4 separate regions of the Homo sapiens genome follow, and regions 2, 3 and 4 are each linked to region 1. Evidence: fine-mapped expression QTL. A gene starts in region 1. Each other region holds a variant in brackets. All regions are shown on one strand. Distances are from middle to middle.

What was found. PIP is the estimated chance that this variant, and not a neighbour inherited with it, causes the effect. A credible set is the group of variants that fine-mapping cannot tell apart.
Region 2: its variant is the best candidate, but not a certain one, in a credible set for the expression of ETFA in whole blood (TOPMed, PIP 0.76).
Region 3: its variant is the best candidate, but not a certain one, in a credible set for the expression of ETFA in activated CD8 T cells (Schmiedel 2018, PIP 0.78).
Region 4: its variant is the best candidate, but not a certain one, in a credible set for the expression of ETFA in whole blood (INTERVAL, PIP 0.82).

What each region holds. Positions count from the first base shown.
Region 1 is chr15:76,308,539-76,314,044 of GRCh38, forward strand. It overlaps ETFA (electron transfer flavoprotein subunit alpha), which reads right to left and starts at 2,931. Exons shown (of 12, transcript NM_000126.4): 1 at 2,812-2,931. The coding sequence starts at 2,850. RefSeq lists enhancers at 2,183-2,683, 2,684-3,184, 3,394-3,443, 3,504-3,553 and a cis regulatory region at 5,115-5,506.
Region 2 is chr15:76,390,728-76,396,233 of GRCh38, forward strand. The region is part of intron 27 of SCAPER (S-phase cyclin A associated protein in the ER); the gene reads right to left. Among named protein-coding and RNA genes, the nearest start is that of ISL2, 57 kb to the left of the region's middle. The variant C/G (reference allele first, on the strand shown) is at 3,208.
Region 3 is chr15:76,348,159-76,353,664 of GRCh38, forward strand. It overlaps SCAPER (S-phase cyclin A associated protein in the ER), which reads right to left. Exons shown (of 32, transcript NM_020843.4): 31 at 3,079-3,130; 32 at 1-578. The coding sequence ends at 475. Among named protein-coding and RNA genes, the nearest start is that of ISL2, 14 kb to the left of the region's middle. The variant T/TTGTG (reference allele first, on the strand shown) is at 2,208.
Region 4 is chr15:76,699,511-76,705,016 of GRCh38, forward strand. It overlaps SCAPER (S-phase cyclin A associated protein in the ER), which reads right to left. Exons shown (of 32, transcript NM_020843.4): 19 at 3,340-3,492; 20 at 2,248-2,355. Among named protein-coding and RNA genes, the nearest start is that of MIR3713, 120 kb to the left of the region's middle. RefSeq lists enhancers at 1-321, 322-822. The variant C/CA (reference allele first, on the strand shown) is at 2,667.

The DNA.
Region 1 (5,506 bases):
AACCCAAATTGAGTGACAGTCTGGAAAATAGAAGGCCTGTACTCTTCAAATACACCAATGTCATCAAACCCAAAGGAAGGCTGAGGAACCTTTCTAACAGAGTAAAGAGACATGAAAACCACTTGCAGGACATCTAGAGTATCTTAGACCAGAATAAGGAAAATTGCTATAAACTGTACTAATGGGACAACTGGCAAAATTGAACATCCATAGATTAGAAAACAGTATTTTATGGTGAAACTTCCAGATATTGCCAATTACAGTGTAGTTAGAAAGTGAACCTCTTTGTTCTTTTAAAATATCACTCAATTATTTAGGAGTAAAGGGCACATTTGCAACATACTTTCAAATGGTTCAGAAAGATAGTATTATGTATATATGTGGAAAGATAAAGCAAATGTGTCAAACTGCTAACATGCTGGGAAAACCAGGGGAAGGGTTTTGAGATTTCTTTGTACTATTCTTGCAACTTTTCTATAAGTGCAACTATTTCAAAATTTAAAAAGTTAAATACAGGTATATGTCCCTATTAATATATGGGTCCACTTTAGAAGTGTTGCCACCATTTCTTTTATGCTAGAAATCCAAATCTCTCCAACATTCTTAATGACTTTAAAACAGCTATTCTAGGCTGGGCGCGGTGGCTCACGCCTGTAATCCCAGCACTTTGGGAGGCCAAGGCGGGCGGATCATGAGGTCAGGAGATCGAGACCATACCGGCTAACACAGTGAAACCCCCGTCTCTACTAAAAATACAAAAAAATTAGCGGGGCGTGGTGGCGGGTACCTGTAGTCCCAGCTACTCAGGAGGCTGAGGCAGGAGAATGGCGTGAACCCGGGAGGCGGAGCTTGCAGTGAGCTGAGATCGCGCCACTGCACTCCAGCCTGGGCGACAGAGCGAGACTCCGTCTCAAAACAAACAAACAAACAAACAAAAAAAACAGCTATTCTACTTAGCTTGACTTCAAATTTTAAAAATAAGTCAAGGTCAAAGTCTTTGGCAAACCACAATGAATATCTGGAAGTAATGTCTATACACATTAGCCAACGATGTGGATAGTAAAAATTACTTAATCATTCCATTTTTTTCTGTTAGCTCTACAAAATTACTGAGTCCTAAATTCCATCCCCCACCACAATTATAATTTCACTTAGGCCAGACTTGTAATCTGTCCACAAAACTGTTTTCCAACTGCTGCATAGAGCAGCATTCTTCTGGCTCAGGTTCCTGGAATTTCCCCAAATTCATGATTTTCACTTGTTTATGTCTAGATCCCCAACCGGGAGAAAACATGTCCTGAGGGGAAGACAGGACACTAACCTGAAAGACATGGGTTTGAACTCTTTAGGGGAGGGGAGGGTCAGAACTTTTTATTAAACAAGGAATACGCACAAGAAAAAAGATGTCTAAGGCCAGGTGCGGTAGCTCAGGCCTGTAATTCCAGGACTTTGGGAGGCCGAGGCAGGTGGATCACTTGAGGACAAGAGTTCGAGACCAGCCTGGGTAACATGGGGAAACCCCGTCTCTACAAAAAAAAAAAAAAAAAAAAAAAAAAAATTAGCCAGGCGTGATGATGCGCACCTGTGATCCCAGCTTCTCGGGAAGCTGAGGTGGGAGAATCGCTTGAACCTGGGAGGCGACGGTTGCAGTGAGCCCATATCGTGCCACTGCACTCCACTCCAGCATGGGAAACAGAGCCAGACCTTGTCTCTTAAACAAACAAACAAACAAACAAACAAAAGTCTAATGTCTACAGACATCTAGAAAGAGCTCCAGCTATGCCTCAGAGAGAAAAATCCCAGGAGTGGATGGGAAAATATCCATGCCCAGAAAAAAAAAAAAAAAAAAAAAAAGGAGAAAAGGTACAAACCATCAGGTAAGTTTCTGACCCAAGTTTACCAATCTTGTTTCTCATTTCACCTAAATGTAAACTAGGAAAACTACACAATCCACAATATAAATTATTGTTACTTGACTTGTGACTGGTCAGTCTCCAAATACTCCTTTCCCACAGCATGAGAAGGAAAATATGTTTCCTATCAGTCCTTCTCACAACAGAAGAGAGAAATGTGGTTTGTCACTAATGAAACACTGAAAATGTACCACTGTCACCAGTTAACCTAATCTACAATCTGCTGGTTAAAAGCAGGTCAGCCTGAAGCATATAAAAAGACGTCTGCCTTTCAAAACTGGCTAAAGCTGTCAAATCGGATCGCAGGTTTTACAAATACAATCACCTAAATTCAGCCCTGCTCCATAAACCAGAAAGCAGAACCAGCTTCCATAACTGGCCACGCAGCCTCCCACCCCACCCCACCCCCGCCCTTGACAGTGAGTGGGTCGGAGTAGCCACGATGCGCCCAAAGTGTTTAATTCTTCCAGAAATGCCGGCCTCCGGGAGGAATCTAGGTTTGAAACTTTCCCCAACAGGGCATTCCCCGGTGACATTTTGCTCCCTCGGGTGTGGAGCAAGTGTGGAGGACCTGGCGGCCCGAAAGTGCCCAGAGTGACCGACAAAGGTGGGAAACGGCAGGGCAGAGAGTGGGCCAGAAGAAGGGGCAGCAGACGCGCAAATTCACATCATTCGGGGTCACCCTGACCCCAAACCTCTGACTTCTGCCCCGAACTGGCGTTCCGCAGGGAGTCCAGGGTAGGCCCCAGAACTTTGGACCCAAGTCCCAGGCGGGGACCGGCCTGCGGGCGCGAGGGCTGGTCGAATCTGAGGGGGCCAGTGATCTTTGCAAGACCCCATAGGGACGGCGGGTTGACGGGGGGCCGTCCCTGGGTTCGCCTTCCCAGTCCGGACTCACCGCCCGCCGGAGCTGCCCCGGAGCCGCCGCTCGGAACATGGTCTCCGCTTCCGCCGCAACCTCGGCCTTACAGCAGCCCCGTGCCCGGCCAACTGGCGCCGCCTCAGCCAGTCACCTAATGCTCGCGAGACGCGCGAACGAGATAAGACGCCCTAGGCCGGGAGCACGAGCCCGCGGTTTCCGCCTGCCCATTGGGCGGCTGCGCAGCCAATAGACGGCGGGAAGTTAGGGGCTAGACTGGGAAGTGGGGCAAAGGTGAGGCTATTCCCCGGGGACCTTCGAGTAAGCCCGGGCCGCGGAGCGGCAGAGACAAAGCTGGCCACCCGCTGATGACCGAGCTCAGACTGTACTGTCTCACAGCCCCGCAATGGTCAGCACTGCTAGAGTGAACTTCAAAACTGAGCTGACCTCGGGGTAAGGTACGAGTGGAGCCTTGCCAATTCCAATTAGATACCTTTCCTATATGCCCCTATTTCCCCCTGTATTTCCCCATGGTAGCAATTGTCACATGGGTTGTAATAACCTAAGTACTTGTCTGTGTCACCCATCTGACTGAAGATCTGTAAGGGCAGAAAGTATGCCCTTTTTTTTTTTTTTTTTTTTGAGAGAGAGAGAGTCTCCCTCTGTCACCCTGGCTGGAGTGCAGTGGCGCGAGCTCAGCTCACTGAAAGCTCCGCCTCCCGGGTTCACTCCATTCTTCTGCCTCAGCCTCCCGAGTAGCTGGGACTACAGGCGCCCGCCACCACGCCCAGCTAATTTTTTTGTATTTTTAGTAGAGACGGGGTTTCACAGTGTTAGGCAGGATGGTCTCGATCTCCTGACCTCGTGATCCGCCCGCCTCGGACTCCCAAAGTGCTGGGATTACAGGCGTGAGCCACCGCGCCCGGCCAGTATGCCCTACTTTTAAATTTTGTGTCTACCTGCAACACCTAGCACAATGCCTGGTCCATACTAGGCATTCAATCAGTATGTGTTGAATGAATAAGCAAATGAATAAATGACTGCTAATGAGTCTGGACTTTAACACGAAATTTTTAAGAGGGAAGTGGTATGTTCAGAAATTGTCTCAATTCCCAATTCAGCAACAACCTACCTTTCCAATGTTATCTAGTCTATCAACAAATCCCGTTGACTCTACCTTCAAAAGATAACCAGAATCCAGCAATATCCTCCAACACCCCTTTGCTCCTCTGCTGGTATCACCTTCACTCAGGACCCTGTCCTCTCTCGCCTGGATCATTGCAAAGCCTCCTAACTGGTCTTTCTGTTTCTGCCCATGTTTCCAGAAGCCTCTTCTCCAAACTGATGGACTGATCATGACCTCTGCTCAAAGCCCTATGGTGGCTCCCTCTCCTCCCACTGCCCTCTTCTCTCACTGTTCCCCAGATACATAGGCCTTCTTGAGCACACAAGCCTGCTCCTCTCAGAGTTTTGCACTCTGGCTCTTCCCTCTGCCTGAAATGGCCTTCTCTTGTTACCCGCGTGGCGTACTTCCTCACTTCATTCAGGTCTCTGCTCAAAAAACACATTTGCAGAAAGGCCGGCCTTAGCCTCTCCACCTAAAATAGCACCCATGCCACTCCCAGACGCCCTATCACCTTGTTTGATTTTTTTTCTTGGCATTTATCACTGCCTAACAGGATGCACATGTTTGTTTATTGCTGATCTCACTGCATTGGAGTGTAAATTCCCTGAAGCAAGAGCTTTGTCTGAACTAACAAGCACTCTAAGGGCCTTGCGCTTTTGCTCTTCCCTCTGTCTGAAATTCCCTTCCCCATCTGACAGCCCTCTTTAAAACCCAGATCAAGTGACAATTCTTTTGTTCTGTTTAAGACAAGGTCTCACTCTGTTTCCCAGGCTGGAGTGCGGTGGTGCCATCACAGCTCACTGCAGTCTCGAACTCCTGGGATCAAGCAATCTTCCTGCCTCAGCCTCCCAAGTAGCTGGGACTACAGTCATGTGCCACCATGCCCAGCTATTTTTTTTTGTAGGGGCAGGGTTACCCAGGGCTGGTCTCGAACTCCTGGCCTCAAGTGATCTTCCCACCTTGGCCTCTCAAAGTACTGGGATTACAGACATGAGCCACCACGCCTGGCCCAAGTGACATTTCTTTTGTAAGCTCTTTCTCAATTCTGCAGGATGAATTAATCCTTTCCTCTTCTTCACTCTTGTAGCTCTATGAACAAGGAGGTGAGGACCCATCTTAAACTTAAGTTGCACCCACTTCGAACACGTCTGAACTCATGTTGCCGACAGAGCTGTGGACCCCTGTCCCCCAGTCAATCTGCCTGTGGGAGGGGCAATTTAGTATTCCATGTCTCACTGCATTTACCTCCTAACCAGTCCCACACTGGACTAGAATCTGAGACCTATGGGAGTGGAAGGAAGAGGGAAGGGTACTTTTAGTAAAAACAGAAAAGGATATTTTACTAAAAACCATATAAAAAACTGGGATACAAACTAACCTCCTTCCCTACCTCCCCACCCATGACAAAGCGAAATACAAGGGGAGAGCGGCTGCCCCGCCCTGCCCCCACTGGGCAGATTCAACAGCTCCCAGGCTTGGGCAAATCAGCAGCAGCTGTTCACCCCAGAGTCTCGTTGCCCCTGGGGGTTCCTGGTGGAGCAGTTCAGAGCAGAGGGAGAGGCTAAAAATGGGCAAAGTCTGTGACACCTGACCAGACCTGTTCTGATC
Region 2 (5,506 bases), 82 kb after region 1:
TTTGGCTAGTTGATACTTTGGGGCTCTCTTTACAGTTTGGAAGTTGGGCTGAAGGAGCTCTGCCAGAGGCTATGTTGTGTTGCCAAGTAAAGGTAATTGCTTCTGCTGGGAGGGTAACTGGGAGGAAAAAACTGTCATATCAGGTGCTGCATTAAGATTCCAGTACCCTCCTAAATGATCTTTCTGGCTTCCACTCTTGCTTCTCTAATCCATTTTTCACAGAGTAAACAGATGCTTTTTTACTTTTTAAGCCACTCTCCTGTTTAAAATCCTCCAGTGGCTTCCACTCACACTTAAGAGCAGAATTCAGATTTCTCACCTTTCTGTCCTCATCTCCTGGCCTTTACTTATTGACTTCAACTTCTACCACTTTCTTTCTGGCTCTTCACATTCCAATATATCACTTTCTCTGTTTCTGGAACATCCACTTCAAGGTCTTGCCATTCTTCTCAACTAGAATACCCTTTGCTTGGGTCTTTACATGCCTGGTTCCGTCTTAGCTTGTCATCTCCCCAGAGAGGCCGTTCCTGACCACTTCGTCTGCAGAAGCCCTTGACCAAGACATTCGGCTATATTACCAGGCTTTATTTTCTCATGTCACTAGCTAAAATAATCTTATTTGTATATTGGTTGATTGTTTTTTCCCCATTAGACTGTAAATTTCATCAGAGTGGTATCTTGTTCATCAATCGATCCCCAGTACCTTGACAAGGTCTGGGACATAGCACATACTCAGTAAATAGGTATGAGTAAATATTTGCCAAAGAAATAGAAGGAAGAAAGGGAGAACTGATCTTAGCAAGGCATGCCAAAGGAATGAAGGCCTTGGATGCCTATTTCCTAACTCAGAGAAAGAAGAACATGAGATGTGGGCAGTCCTTCTTCTTATGTATAGAATAGGCCCAGGAAATGGGATTCCGACATAGGCCAATGATCGTTCACTAGTATTTGCTAGCTCTACCAATGAACAGCTGTTTCTCAAGTTCTTATTTTGTTTTGTTTCAGGTGCTATGTGCCTGACGGGAAGCTGCTAGGATATTTAGCTTCTTTCTCTAGGTAAATACTTTTAACTCTAGACACAAACCATGTATACAAGGAAAGAGAAATAATGAACTGCACGTTGACAAATACCAAGTAAGTGGCATAAATGGTATGTTCCATCTCATATTTCAGAGGAAAACATCCCTTTGATGGAATCAAATAGGACTGGATTGGATTCTGGGAAAGAAAAGTCAAAGATGACTAAGGCTTTGGGTCTTAAAATCTACTCAGATTGCTGGAATCATGAGCAGAATAAGGCAGTCAGGAGGGACAGCCAACTTTGGGTGAAAGCCAATGAGCTCAGGATCTAACATATTAAATATAAGTTCCTGGTAGAAATTGCCAGTAGGAATTCCAGGAGGAAATGTCTATCATGGCCTTGTTATGAATATGGTTTGGGCCTTAACCTTACTTGCTGTGGCTTGATTTACCTTTCCTGCCTATCTCCTTTTAATTTTTAATTAAAAAAATAACATATATATACTTCTATAAGCTATCTCAAGTTTTTGGAACAAAATGTGTTATAATGAATACAAGAATATGTAAAAAATAGCATCTTAGACAAGAAGTAAGAGTGACAGATGTTAGCCCCCATTTACTCCTGTCATGTCCAACCCTGTGAGGGAAGAAGTAACACATTCATTTTCATATGTGAACAACAGGCTTTGAAAACCTAAAGAACCAGGGCTAGGCATGGTGGCTCACGCCTGCAATCCCAACACTCTGGGAGGCTGATGCAGGAAGATCACTTGAGCCCAGGAGTTCGACACCAGCCTGGGCAACATAGGGAGAGCTCGTCTACACACACACACACACAAAGCAAAATCAGAGAATTAGTGGAACGCAGCAGTGCATCCCTGTAGTCTCAGCTACTTGGGAAGCTGAGGTTGGAGGATAGATTGAGCCTGGAGGATTGAGGCTGCAGTAAGCCGTGATCACTCTTCTGCACGCTGCCACAGGTCACAGAACTGAGAAAGCTGAAACTGAGCCCACATCTTTCTGACTTCCTAACCTTTGCTCTTCAACATAATATTACACACAGTTTTCCTCTTGAGATCCTGCCTTCTCAGTCTCCTAGAGCCAGTGAGAATCTGGCTGCAAATGTATCCTGGACACATTCTGCTCCTCTAAACCCTGCATGTTGAGGCCATCATCCCTTGTCCCCTGTGAGAATGGTAAGTCAGTGGAGACTGTCCTAAACTTTGGCCCTACGAGCTGGGGCCCAGCCAGTTCCCTTTCTGCCTAGCACATAGTGAGCACTCATGTGAACTGTACCAATGAAGTTGTCATCTTTCCATTCCTTCAAGTAACTAGGGCTTTATGTCAGCTGGGATGGATCTTTCGGAAGTCCCTCTATTAGCACTTTGCCATTGTGAGTACAGAGACACCCCAGAAGTTCCTGCTTCTGTATTCTTCCCATTCTCTAGATCTGAAGGATAAGGACAGTCACTCCTCCTTATTAGTCTAGTGGCTGTTTTAACTCCTTTGACAGCGTGAGCAGGACTCTTGAATGCTTGTAGGGAGATAGCCCACATGAAATACTCAGCTCAGGGTGTATCAAAGGTGCTTAACAAATGTTACTTCTTTTAGTTCCACTTGCCTAGTCCTGTTACATTCACTTCATTGCCTATCTCCCAATACCAACAAACCCTTTGTCCAAAGACAGTAGCTAATGACAACAAAATATTTAGGAATGGGCTGACAGTATCAAATAAGAGACTGCAGAGAGAATAGAAGGCAGCTGAGAACAGGAGACTGGGAACTCATTTATCTTTAGGGTAGGGTGGAAAGTAGCAGGCTATATTTTTCAAGTATAACCACAGCAACATTTCTGGTCCCCTATGCTCTTCTAGAACCTTCATCCTCCCCAGGAAGAGGCAAAGTCTATTTCTCCTTTTTTTGAAGCTGGATGGAACTTCATGACTGCCTTGGTGAATAGAATGTAGTGCAAGTGATGCTGTGTGATTTCTGAGGCTGAGTCATAAAAGGTGATATGGTTTCTAGCTGCTCTCTCACTGCCAGGATGCTTGTTCTTGGAACACAGCCACCATGCTGTGAGGAAGCCAATTAAGCCTATGCAGAGACCCCACATGGAAAGACCCCTGGCTGACAGCCAGCATCTACCACAGATGTGTGAATAAGCACTCAGATGATTCCAACCACCAG[C/G]CTTCAAGTCTTCTGAGGCCCCAGACATTGTGGAACAAAGATAACCCATCCTCTCCGTACCTTAAAAGAATTCCTGACCCACAGAATCTGTGAGATTAATAGATGGTTGTTTTATGCCACTAAATTTTAGGGTAATTTGTTGCAGTTATTGTAACCGTAACAAGAAGAAAAGCAAAGGAAAATATGAGGTACCGTGAGACCAGGGGAGTTCAGGAAGAAGAGTAGGTTCATATTAGTCTGCATGTTGCCAAGGAGCAAGTAGGCCTTATACTAATAGGTAGCACTAGGGAGACAGATTTCAGCTTGGTATAAGGAGAGATGGTTTAAGCAACAACAACTCAAGCTCCCCTTAGTTAAGTAACGAATTTCCTGTCACTGGAGGTGTTCAACAGAGACAGAGAGGCTTACTGAAAAGATTCAAACCTGACTGGAAGACCAGATAGGGGACTTTAAGTTTCCTTTCAATCAACAGAATGTGGCAGTAGATTAGATCTGGGGTATCAGGAGGAGAGATTAGAGATGATGAGGTTTGGAGCTTGATGCCTGAGAGACTGGTGATACCATACACAAAAAGAGTGTCTATGGGAGGGTTTTTCAAAACATTCTTCTTTCCATTCCTTTCGTCTCTTACCTGGACAACTGTTAATGCCCCTTGCACTTTCCACCTTCTAATACATTCTTCACACGACACTTGACCAGTGCTCCCAAATATGGTTCTTAGCAGGTCACTTCCTTGCTCAAAGGCTTTAAAAATTCATTTTATGTTTTTAAAATTTTTGTGGGTACACAGTAGGTATACATATTTATGGGATACCTGAGATATTTTGATACGAGCATGCAATGAGTAATAATCACATCACGGAAAATGGGGTTATCTGTCTCCTCAAGCATTTATCCTTTGTGTTACAAACTATCCAATTATATTCTTTTAGTTATTTTAAAATGTACAATTAAATTATTACTGACTATAGTCACCCTGTTGTGATATCAAATATTTAGTCTTATTCATTCTAACGCTTTTATTTTTTTGTACCCATTAACCATCCCCAGCTCTCTCCCACCCACCCACTACCCTTCCCAGCCTGTGGCACCCATCCTTCTACTCTCCATCTCCATGAGTTTGTTTTGATTTTTAGATCCCACAAATAAGTGAGAACATGTGATGTTTATCTCTCTGTGCCTAGTTTATTTTACTTAACACAATGACCTCGAATTTCATCCATGTTGTTGCAAATGAGAGGATCTCATTCTTTTTTATGGCTGAATAGGACTCCATTGTGTGTATGAGTACATTTTCTATATCCATTCATCTCCTGATGGACACTTAGGCTGCTTTCAAATCTTGGCTATTGGGAACAGTGCTGCAACAAACATGGGAGTGTGGATATCTCTTTGATATACTGATTTCCTTTCTTTTGGGTATATACCCAGCAGTGGGATTGCTGGATTGTATGGTAGCTCTATTTTTAGTTTTTGTAGGAATTTCCAAACTGTTCTCCATAGTGGTTGTATTAATTTGCATTCCCACCAACAGCGTATGAGGGTTCCCTTTTCTCCACATCCTTGCCAGCATTTGTTATTGAATGTCTTTTAGATAAAAGACATTTTAACTGGGATGAGATGATATCTCTTTGTAGTTTTGATTTGCATTTCTCTGATGATCAATGATGTTGAGCACCTTTTCATATGCCTGTTTGCCATTTGTATGTCTTCTTTTGAGAAATGTCTCTTCAGATCTTTCGCCCATTTAAAAATTGGATTATTAGAGTTTTTCCTATAGAGTTGTTTGAATTCTTATATATTCTAGTTGTTAATCCCTTGTCAGATGGGTACTTTGCAAATATTTTCTCTCTTCTGTGGATTGTCTCTTCACTTGATTGATTGTTTCCTTTGCTGTGCAGGAGCTTAACTTGATGTGATCCCATTTATCCATTTTTGCTTCGGTTGCCTGTGCTTGCAGGGTACTATTCAAGAAATTTTTGCCCAGTACAATGTCCTTAAGAGTTTCCCCAATGTTTTCTTGTAGTAGTTTCATAGTTTTGAGGTCTTAAAGTCTTTAATCCATTTCGATTTCTGTATATGGTGAGAGACAGGGGTCTAGTTTCATTCTTCTGCATATGGATATCCAGTTTTCCCAGCATCATTTATTGAAGAGACTCTTCCCTAATTTATGCTCTTGGCACCTTTGTCAAAAATGAGTTCACTGTAGATGAATTTGTTTCTGGGTTCTCTATTCTGCTCCATTGGTCCATGTGTCTGTTTTTATGCCAGTACCATGCTGTTTTGATTATTACAGCTT
Region 3 (5,506 bases), 40 kb after region 1:
TTTACCGTAGACCTTAAAAAGTTAAATTTAGAGCAGGTAAACTTTAATTAAGTCTTTATTTAAGATACTTCAAGAGCTGGAGTTAACATTTTTCTTTCAGATTCGTATTTCCTTAACATGAAAAGTCAACAATGAAAACAGAATAAGTTACTTTATTACAAGAACAAAACAGACTTGCTAATTTTATGTCTCCTTTCACCCATATCACAAATGCAAAGTATATATTATCATAAGATGGAAATTACCAAACTCCAAGATACTCTGCATAAATGAAATAAACTCAACTTGCAAAATTAGCAAGTAGAACATTCAAGTATCTACAGTCATTATAAATAGTGTAAAGTACATGCCATATCTACAGTGTGGGAAGAGTATAAACATGGGAAAATGAGTTCTTAAGGAACAATTAGAATGTTTGTTTGGACAATTTAAAATATTAACAAGGGTACTCAAATACAGAATCAACCAAAACATTTATTTTTTCTCTTTTTTCAAGAAAAACTGTCGAGCTTCTTCCCAGGCCTGCTGAGGAAATCTGTTAGCCAGCTCAAGATAGTCTTGGGAACCAAGGCATTTCCCTGAGAGGGGGATAAAAGAGAAAAAAGTTAAATAAAAGAGGGTTAAATTCTTTGAAGATTCATAAATTAAACTTATTTTGATATCTGAGTATAAAATGGAGATATCCACTTCAAATAAACCATGACACAATTTAGGTAAATAAGGTGATTGATCTATATGTATCAATCTATCTGTAGTATAAAATATATGACATATATTTTAACCACAATCCAGTTTGTCCTTTAACATATTCAGACATTAACCCCTATATAAATTACAAAAAGATGTTTTTGGACTCCACAATGAGAAAAAAATTAGCAACCAGGCAAGCACAGTGGTGCGCGCCTGTAGTCCCAGCTATTTGGAAGGCTGAAGTCGGGGGAATGCTTGAGCCCAGGAGTTAGAGGCTATAGTTTGCTATGATCGCACCTGTGAGTAGCCATTGCACTCCAGGATAGGCAACATAGAGAGACCCTGTCTCAAAAAAAACAAAAAACAAAAAACAAAAAAAAGAACAAACTAAAATGACAGTCCTATATTCTATCCTTAAGTTAGCCATGAAAGGGGAAAACTGTATGTAAATGATGACGTTTTCTGAAAGTCTATTTAATTTAAAACATGAATGTAGTTTTAAGTATATCTTTAAAATTATTCAAATATAGCACAGCCTATCTAACAAAGCAGTAGGAATGAATGATAGGAGCTTTACTGGCCAGTGACATAGGTAAAGTAAACAATTGCAGCTAGACAGGCAGTAGGTATTTGAAAACCAAAATTCTTCCTGGGCAATAGGAATGTGGTATTACCAAGAGCTGCTTTTATATTTAAAGGTTTACCTGGACAATGAACTCAAAATATCTTGAGACATTTTATGAGGACTTAATCTAGGCAAAAGGGGAACAAATACCCAAGGTGCAAACTGGCAACTTAGGCATCATCATTAAAAAAAAAATCAAGCAACATATTATGAGCTGTCATTAACATAGTGATGACCCTTTCTGAGCAAAGGAGAGACCAATTCCCCCTTTGCTGTTCTGTGGGTTAAGCCTACTGTAACTGGGGGAAAGCATGAAAATCAGGGAAGATGGTCCCTTGGAAAAGAAAGAAGGTTGAGACTTCCACAGGCCTCAGTCCACCAAGCAGAGAGAGGCAGCTTCTGGGACTGTGTCTTCCAGACAATGTAACAAATTGTGACTCATCTTTATGATCAGGAGAAAGAGTAAGAAAAAAATGCTTATACTTCTTAGTGGCAAACAAAACAAAACAAAACTGCTGTACAATTGAAAATAAATACATTAGATTTTTCTAAGCATTTTAATTTATTCAAAATGAAATTGTTTTGTAAGAACAGTAACACATTTTGCTGATTTCTCCCCAAGTATCCTCCAGTAGTTAAAACAAAACAAAACAAAAAAAGGGCTGTGACTGGGTCAGGGCAGAACTGAACTTGCAGACTAATTCTTGCTCAGACAAATGGTACCGACAAGGATGTGGACTTGAATTTCTGAAAAGTTGCATAGCTTTCTGTTTAACTTTTCTGGGTGCCTGAGTCAATAAAACGTCTTTTTTTTTTCTTTTCATGATATTGTAATAGCTTTAGTTATATTTTCTTCTGTGCACTTTTCAACACCTGTCCACTGTAGAGGACT[T/TTGTG]TGTGTGTGTGTGTGTGTGTGTGTGTGTGTGAAAGAGTCCAAGGTAACACCCCCACCCCCACCAAGTAAGGGTTTCTTGGTGGGTGCCCTAAAGGGTCCTGCTGGGAGTGTACCTCTAAATGGCCACTTTAAAGACTATCAAACTAATGGAAGAATTGAAGAAGATCTGGATTAGGTTCTCATTCATCAGAGATGCTGTCATAACACCCAAAGAGCAACTTGTACTTCTCAATTACAGTCTGGGTAGCAGAATATTTAAAAAAGTAAAAATGTGGTAAAAATTCTACATCTCTAACTCTGATCACAGCAAACACCCCAGCAGGAATGCTATAGGAAAAAAAAACAACTTGTAAATCTTTTGCCCTGGACTTTGCCAATTAGATGACTTTTTCTCCATGTAAAACAATTATTTTCAAAACAAAAGTTCAACTACTTGAACTTGGGGGGAAACTGTGGGCTACTATTACTGATAACTTTATTCTGAACATGGATAAGGAACCAAACCTATGTGATTTCAGCATTTATGTGAGAAATGTGGGCCAGTATTAATGATCTGGCTCCTGTATTACAAAGCGGCTCTTTAGTAATTATTTACCATTTAATATATCTTGCATGAGATGATTATAAATTATACAAAGATATTTGTGCTTTTCTTTTACTCCCACAGATTTCTATACATATTTGGATGCATTCATGCTTCATGACAAAATCGATTTCTTTACTTACTGAAATATACTTGGTATCTGAATCTCAAATATTTTTAGGTTATGTATAAAATTTTACATATAATGTAGCAGTTCCAGAGGAAAGGATAAGAAAGATGTCCATTTGGCTAACAAACACATGAAATTTAATTTCAATAGAGACATACCTTTGGGTTGGTAAGGCTGGTTTTCCGCTTGACCTGGAGTCTGTGCCAAATCCTGTATGAGGAGAGAAAAGTGTTTTTCTATCAATGCTATGAACAGAGAATTTCACTAAGGGTGGCTTTAAATATACTTCTGATTCATGCAACCACTTTTGTATGAATATTTTGGGGCCCAAATATAAACGCTGAAGAAACTGATGTTACGTAGTGCAGGTTCTCATAAATAGTAATGACTTACATCTTGCTAAATTATCACCAGGGGACAACTTGCTGCCTACTTTGGAAATTACAACTTTTTATCTAATAAAACTAAAATTTAAGCCAAATTTACTATCTTAAAATATCAACAGGTGTTGATCATTTTTTTAAAAAGTACAAATATGAAAGCTCTATGTATTCTGCAGCTAAATCTTAAAGTCTGGTAATTTTGCATGTAGATGGAAAATGAAAAATGTAATATAAAATATGTAAATCTTCAGAAACCTAAGACAACCAGCTGCTATTTTAATATCATTTTCTAGTAACTCAGTTATAATGTAACACATAAGAGACCTTGAGGAACCACATTATAAACTAAAATCCTATCTATATTCATTCTCTTGAGCACAATTATTTATAGAAAAACACTTGATTTAACTCTACAAGTCTAATATGCTATCTGAAATAAACAATATAAGAAATTTTTTTTAGCATTTACAAAATTTATGTTACAGATTTTTTTTGTAAGACAAAGGTAGACTTAGTACTTTGTGATCAATATCAGATAAACACAAGAAATATATATAATCTTTAGATCCTGATATCATTTGTATCATTATAAGTCATTGTCTATGCAGTTGAAAACATAAGGAACTAAGCTGATACAGATGTGAAATTGGTTTCGCTCAAACATCACTGTCTCTTTGTTGAAGCCTCTCTGCCCACATCATAAAAACCTGCACATCATCTCCCTGAAGTCCCTAGCTCCTTTTCCTGCCTTACTTTTCTCCACAGCACTTATTGCCATAGCACTTAGCATAGTATCTGACATACTATTTGTTTTACTAATTTTTTTTTTGTCTTTTGCTTGACTCTTCTCCACTTTAATGAAAGATCTGTGAAGGCAGGAATTTTTATCTGTTTTATTTGTTGCTGTATTTGCAGTGCCCAGCACACCTTACACACTCAAAAATTACCTGTTCAATAAAAGAATGAATAATCTGAATTTAGAAAGAGCACACTCTTAAAATTATCCATAATGTATTTGTATTTTCTTTTTTTTTTTTTTTGATGGAGTCTCGCTCTGTCACTCAGCTTGAAGTTCAGTGGCATGATCTTGGCTCACTGCAACCTCTGCCTCCCAGGTTCAAGCTACTCTCCTGCCTCAGCCTCCCGAGTAGCTGGGATTACAGGTGCCCACAGAGACGGCGTTTTACTATGTTGGCCAGGCTGGTCGCAAACTCCTGACCTCAAGTGATCTGCTCACCCCGGCCTCCCAAAGTGCTGGGATTACAGATGTGAGCCACCACACCTGGTCCATAATGTATTTTCTATTTAATTTAATCCTAAGGCTCTAAAAATATATGAAGAATCCTAAGTGTTGATATGATGTTATATACTGTAAAATTTTCTTAAGATATTAACTATAAGACAGTTTTTGAAATCCATATTTGTAGATCTAAATATCTAATTTAACTTTTTTTCCAGAAAATAAAACGTAGATTCAAACAGAACAATTAAGCCGAAAACAAAACTTTTCTAACATAATTGATCTAGTTGCGTTTATTAATTATCTAATACAGGATAGTTTGGAAAACATAAACTTTGAAATGTTGTCTAAGATGAAGAGGGCTCGGGGAACTCCTTAGCTATCCTCTAGTTCCCAGCCAGCTGGGTACTATCATATCCTTTTGACAGAGATAGATGTATATTCACCAGAATATGGAAGAATACTAATACAGAACTCTGCTTTCTGTTTCATTATTCTGAAGACCAGAAAGTACTGTCTACTCATCACATGTGTGTCATGGAGCAAAAACACATCTTATGGTGGAACATGTGAAAGAAATGGGAGATTTTCAGCAAATAATGCTCTATAATGACAAAAAGAAATTCACAGGATGAGTTAGTTAGTAGCAAATGTTAAAGCATAGTCAACTTGGTTTTTCAGCTGACTAAGTTAATTTAGATGTGGAAATAGTACTTTGCTATGGCACTAATTCTGATTCTAGCCCTACAGAATTTAAAATATAAGGCTGTACTTAAAAGTTGTTTTACATTAAAAAAATCAATATAACAGGTTTTTATTTTATACATATAAGAAAATCATATTTATTTAAAAATGTACAAATAAACTAATTTTAATTCATCTTTCTTCAGTAATTATCTATTTCCTATAGTTAGAATAAAAGCAAGATAAATACAATAGTTAAAGCCTTAAAGAAGTCTGGCA
Region 4 (5,506 bases), 390 kb after region 1:
ATGAGGCTTTTTGTTTTTATATTCTTTGATGCCCTTGAGGGTTTGACTGCAGTATACACTGCACGTTCAGTGAACTGGCTCTGCTTCTGGATGATTTCAGCAGCGCTGGACTGCATGCCCTGGGGGACTGAGACCAGGCCCATGGCTTTGCTCTTAGGCACCTCAAAGTTAAGCACTTGCTGCGCTGGAGTGGCTAAGGTGTTCCTGGTCCGCTGGCAACAACACTTCAATGGCGGGCGCTGGCAAAATCACTTCATCAACATGGTGGTATCAGGTTCAAGTGCACAGGCTAGCAGTCACAGGTTCCACATGCACGCAGTTGCAGCTGGCAGAGTGTGAACAGTATTCGCACACTGGTGATGGCAGGGCAATGGCAACGGAGTCCATACCTGCACCGGTGCCAGTAGCAGCATGGTGGCAAAGTCCATGCAGCTGCCAGAAAGTGGTGGGGAGAGGCTGTGGGTAGTTGCACGCCAGCAGGGGCCCATCCACAGAAGCTCTCCGATGGTCAGGCAGGGTCTCCTGGGGTAGGAGCTACGGTGGCAGCCACCTGGAAGCACCTCGTTTGGGCATCCAAGTCCGCACTGCAAGAAGGCATGGCCAGGCAAGGACCCTGAGAGATGCCATCAGACCAGAGTGCTCGGATTACACTGGCCCTGTCCCACTGTCAAGACAGCCCTGCTGTGTGCAGGTCTGACGGACAATAATGGCCAAAGCCACCTAGAGGAACACAGTGAGACTTGAGGGTTGAGCATCTCTGGCTGCCCTCCACAGCAGCTGTTCCTGTGTCAAACCCTCTGGACTCTTCACAAGCTGGACTCCAGTCCCTGCCACCTCTCCAAGCAATTCTCCCTGACAGCTCAAATGTCCGTGGGGGTCATGGGGTCTCCTGCAGCTAGGATTCCAGAGGTCCGTGGTGAGAGTGGACCACTCCTTGCTTAGTTAGCCACCTCTTCCTCAGGAGAGAGTCCTGGTGCTCTACAAAGCCAGGCAACATTCCCTGCTTTCTCTTGCAGCTTCAGCCCAGGGTGTGCCTTCCCTTCCTCTACTCTCAATGCCTTCCTTAGGAAGATCTGCTCAGAGTGTGCCAGCCTTCTTGATGGTCTGGTCTCTCAGTGGGAGATGCTCTTCCTGGCTGCATCTAGTCAGCCATCTTGGCTCTTCCTGTTTCCCCTTCTTTTAACAAGTCATTAAATAAAATACTATTCAACTACAGACATGTTCCTGATGCTACACAGGAGGGCACTGACATAAAGCTAAGAAGAATAACTACAGCTTCACATAAACAATAGGGATCACTTTCACAAGCTTAAGCATGAATGTATGAAGTCAGGCAGAAAAGAATACATACTGTATGATAACATTTGTATGAAATTTAAGAACAGGCAACACTAAATAATGATACAAAAATTCACAGTAGTTAACTTTTGGGGACATAAGTAGGAGGGGGCATAAGAGGAGCCCAAAGGGTACAACAAATGATCTATATTATGATCTGGGTGGTTTTATATCAGTTTATACATATGTAAAAATTCATCAGCTATATACTTGAGATTTATGCTCTTGACTAATGAATGCCATACCTAAAAAAAAAAAAAAGTTCAATATACACATGCACCTACATAAAGGTACCTGCCCTCAAAGAACCCACAATAACTTTTCCTGGACAGCTTGAGTTGCTTAACAAATATGAATTTCTTATTCTTGAGTAGTTTTAAAAATTTACTATAATAAATAGGACAATAAATTCATAGATTAGCTATATCATCCAAGTTTCAAAAAGAGTTAAATGAAAAATATTCATATACATATTTATACAAATCTAAATTCCATGTTGACAATAATTATGTGTGAAGAAATAATGAATTTCCAAAAGCTTCTAAATGGTATACTGATCCAAAATTATCCTCTTAAGTGAAATTTATGTGGTTAACTGTTTTCCAAGAATGTGGCATGTCATTGAGTGATTATTTTCCTGCATTATTAAAATATCAATATACCATAACATTTCCTTATACTGAAATTATGTAAATAACAGCATTAAATTCTTTTTTCTATCTTTCTTGTTAAATTAATATATACACTAAAATAATGACACATTTGTACACTATATTGTAGTAGCTATTAAGTGCTAAATATAGTTTTAAATAATCATAGAAATAAATACAAACACGGAATTCTTTATAATAAAACAGCACATATTGGGTACTCAATAAACAATTGTAAATGAACAAAAATAAAGTTTACCACTTCTTCATCTGACAGTTCACGCCCCTGGATGCTGGTATTCTCTCTCACGGCTTGCTGGTGTTTTCTCCCTTTAACATGGCTAAAAAGATATACCTCTGAAGAGATCTGAAAGCACAAAATCAAAGCAATGTAATCAATATAACATTATATGAATTTTAAACACTACACATTCAGTCCAGTATATGATATGTGAGTTGAGATCCACCTAGTATTTACATATTAGTCTTAAAAATAGTTTCCTCAGAACATAATTCTGAGAATCCTCTAGAAGGCAAATGGTTAAAAAAAAAGACTTGGGAGGCTGAGGCAGGAATATCGCCGGAACCTGGGAGGCGGAGGTTGCAGTGAGCTGAGATCGTGCCACTGCACTCCAGCTTGGGTGACAAAGCGATACTCCATCTCAAAACAAAACAAAA[C/CA]AAAAAAAAGACATGTTACAGCCAGCCTAAGAGGAAATTATTTCCTCTAAGTTTGAAGGTTCAAGTCTCAGCAGTGAAAATGTTGCTTTTTTTTTAGATCTAATACCCCAAAAATACTGACTTGGGCTATCACATTAAGCAGGTAATCATCCATTTTAATAGTAACTATATTCTTGAGCACTTTTACTGCTATTCCAAAATGCTGATGTTATTTGTACCACTTTTCATTCAGAATCATGAAAGAAATCCAGGTCACTCAGCAGATGCCTTAGCATGAGTTTTATTTTTTGAAACAGAGTCTTGCTTTGTCACCCAGGATGGAGTGCAGTGGCATGATCTTGGCTCACTGCAACCTCCACCTCCTGGGTTCAAAGGATTCTCATGCCTCAGCCTCCCGAGTACCTGGGATTACAGACATGCACCACCATGCCCAGCTAATTTTTTGTATTTTTAGTAGAGACAGGGTTTCACCATGTTGGAAAGGCTGGTTTTGCACTCTTGGCCTGAAGTGATCCGCCCACCTCAGTCTCCTAAAGTGCTGAAATTACAGGTGTGAGCTGCCACATCTCGCCTGCCTTAGCGTGAGTTTTAAAAGACTGCAAGAATATATTTCCATGGTTTCATAAACTTTAGTAGTAAACTATATCATTACAATATTGATATAACAACCTACCAGGACATTGCAGAGAGAACACTGCTTCTTTCTTTCATAAGGGGTCAGTTTGGGGGCATAATCAGTATTTGCATGTCGCCCACTGCTTAGCTCAGCAGCTTTTTCTTTTCTTTGTTCAATCTGTTCCATGTGCCTTCGAATACTTTCATCATGCTGTAGATGAAGTCAAAGTGCAAGAATTTCAAAAATTATTCAAATTATGGTGAGAAATTGGAAAAATAATATTTCCATTAAAACTTCAAAAATAATAGAATGTCGTTTCTATGACAACTTACACACTGAAGACAAAGCTTTACACAAAGCCCTTTAATATCACCCACATGAACAGTAATGTTTATTAAAGTGTGCTCCAGGAGATATTAACAAGTGTTTTACAGAACAGGTTCCATGGTCAAATAAATTTGGAAAACAGCAAGCTAAAACTAAACAGGTTTTTAATGTAGAACTTTACAGAACCTCCAGTACGTCACTGTGATATATGACTCAATGCACCTAGCTTTTAGTAGGCATCAACTTACAAATTATTTGCCAATAACACATTTTTGAGAACCACTTCCTGGAACCCACCATGGGAAATGTTAACCTACGGGTAAAGCATATGCTTATCCATACAGCAGGCAAGGCCCATCATGACCAAACCTATAACCTACTCCATTTTTATACCTCCAGTGACAATCCTGGGGGAAAAAACGCTATTTCAGACCTTTGTCCTTATACTCATCTATTTGATATGGCTAGAATGGCATCGCACCTACCTATCCATTTTACTCATCCTCCTTTCAAGATCCAGCTCAGGAAGTGTTCTTTAAAATCACTTCCTGACCTCTGACACTCCTCATATTAGACTAAGTGTCCTCTTCTGTGCTTCCACAGCATTTCATGTATGCCTCTCTTTATGTGGAGGTTATGTACTTAGCATCTGAATTTAAAGTAAATGAAGAGTTTCTTAAAAATCAGAACCATGCCTTATCTCTGCATTCCCCTGCCTACCACAAGGCTCAATAAATACCTGCTACAATAAATTTAAACGCATGATAGATTTCTAGGACTATACAAATAGTAAAATACAGTCTTCTACCTTAGGGGTTTTACTATCTCTGTGAGGAGCCAGCATGTAAATAACTGTGATATAATATGAAACATTCATACTGTTAGAGACTGCCTATGGTTGTAGTAATGCTAAAAATTTTCTAGAAAGTATCAGTTTATCATAATCTCCCAAGCTATAATTATACAATTCATAAGCACTGAAATCAAGTGAAGCAAATTATAAGAAACATCTTTTACTTTACTTTTGAGTGATTAAAACCTATGAATATAAGAAGCCTACCTCTAATGCCTTCAAGTCATTAGTAAATTGCTTAGTAAAAACAGGAAATGTTAGATGAGTAGGTTGCGAGAATTTTCTCCCATTTTGTAGGTTGCCTGTTCACTCTGATGGTAGTTTCTTTTGCTGTGCAGAAGCTCTTTAGTTTAATTAGATCCCATATGTCAATTTTGGCTTTTGTGGCCATTGCTTTTGGTGTTTTAGACATGAAGTCCTTGCCCATGCCTATGTCCTGAATGGTAATGCCTAGGTTTTCTTCTAGGGTTTTTACCGTTTTAGGTCTAATGTTTAAGTCTTTAATCCATCTTGCATTAATTTTTGTATAAGGTGTAAGGAAGGGATCCAGTTTCAGCTTTCTACATATGTCTAGCCAGTTTTCCCAGCACCATTTATTAAATAGGGAAATCCTTTCCCCATTGCTTGTTTTTCTCAGGTTTGTCAAAGATCAGATAGTTTCGCAACCTGCTCATCTGACAAAGGGCTAATATCCAGAATCTACAATGAACTCAAACAAATTTACAAGAAAAAATCAAACAACCCCATCAAAGAGTGGGCGAAGGATATGAACAGACCCTTCTCAAAAGAAGACATTTATGCAGCCAAAAGACACATGAAAAAATGCTCATCATCACTCTCCATCAGAGAAATGCAAATCAAAACCACAATGAGATACCATCTCACACCAGTTAGAATGGCGATCATTAAAAAGTCAGGAAACAACAGGTGCTGGAGAGGATGTGGAGAAACAGGAACACTTTTACACTGTTGGTGGGACTGTAAACTAGTTTGACCATTGTGGAAGTCAGTGTGGCGATTCCTCAGGGATCTAGAACTAGAAAT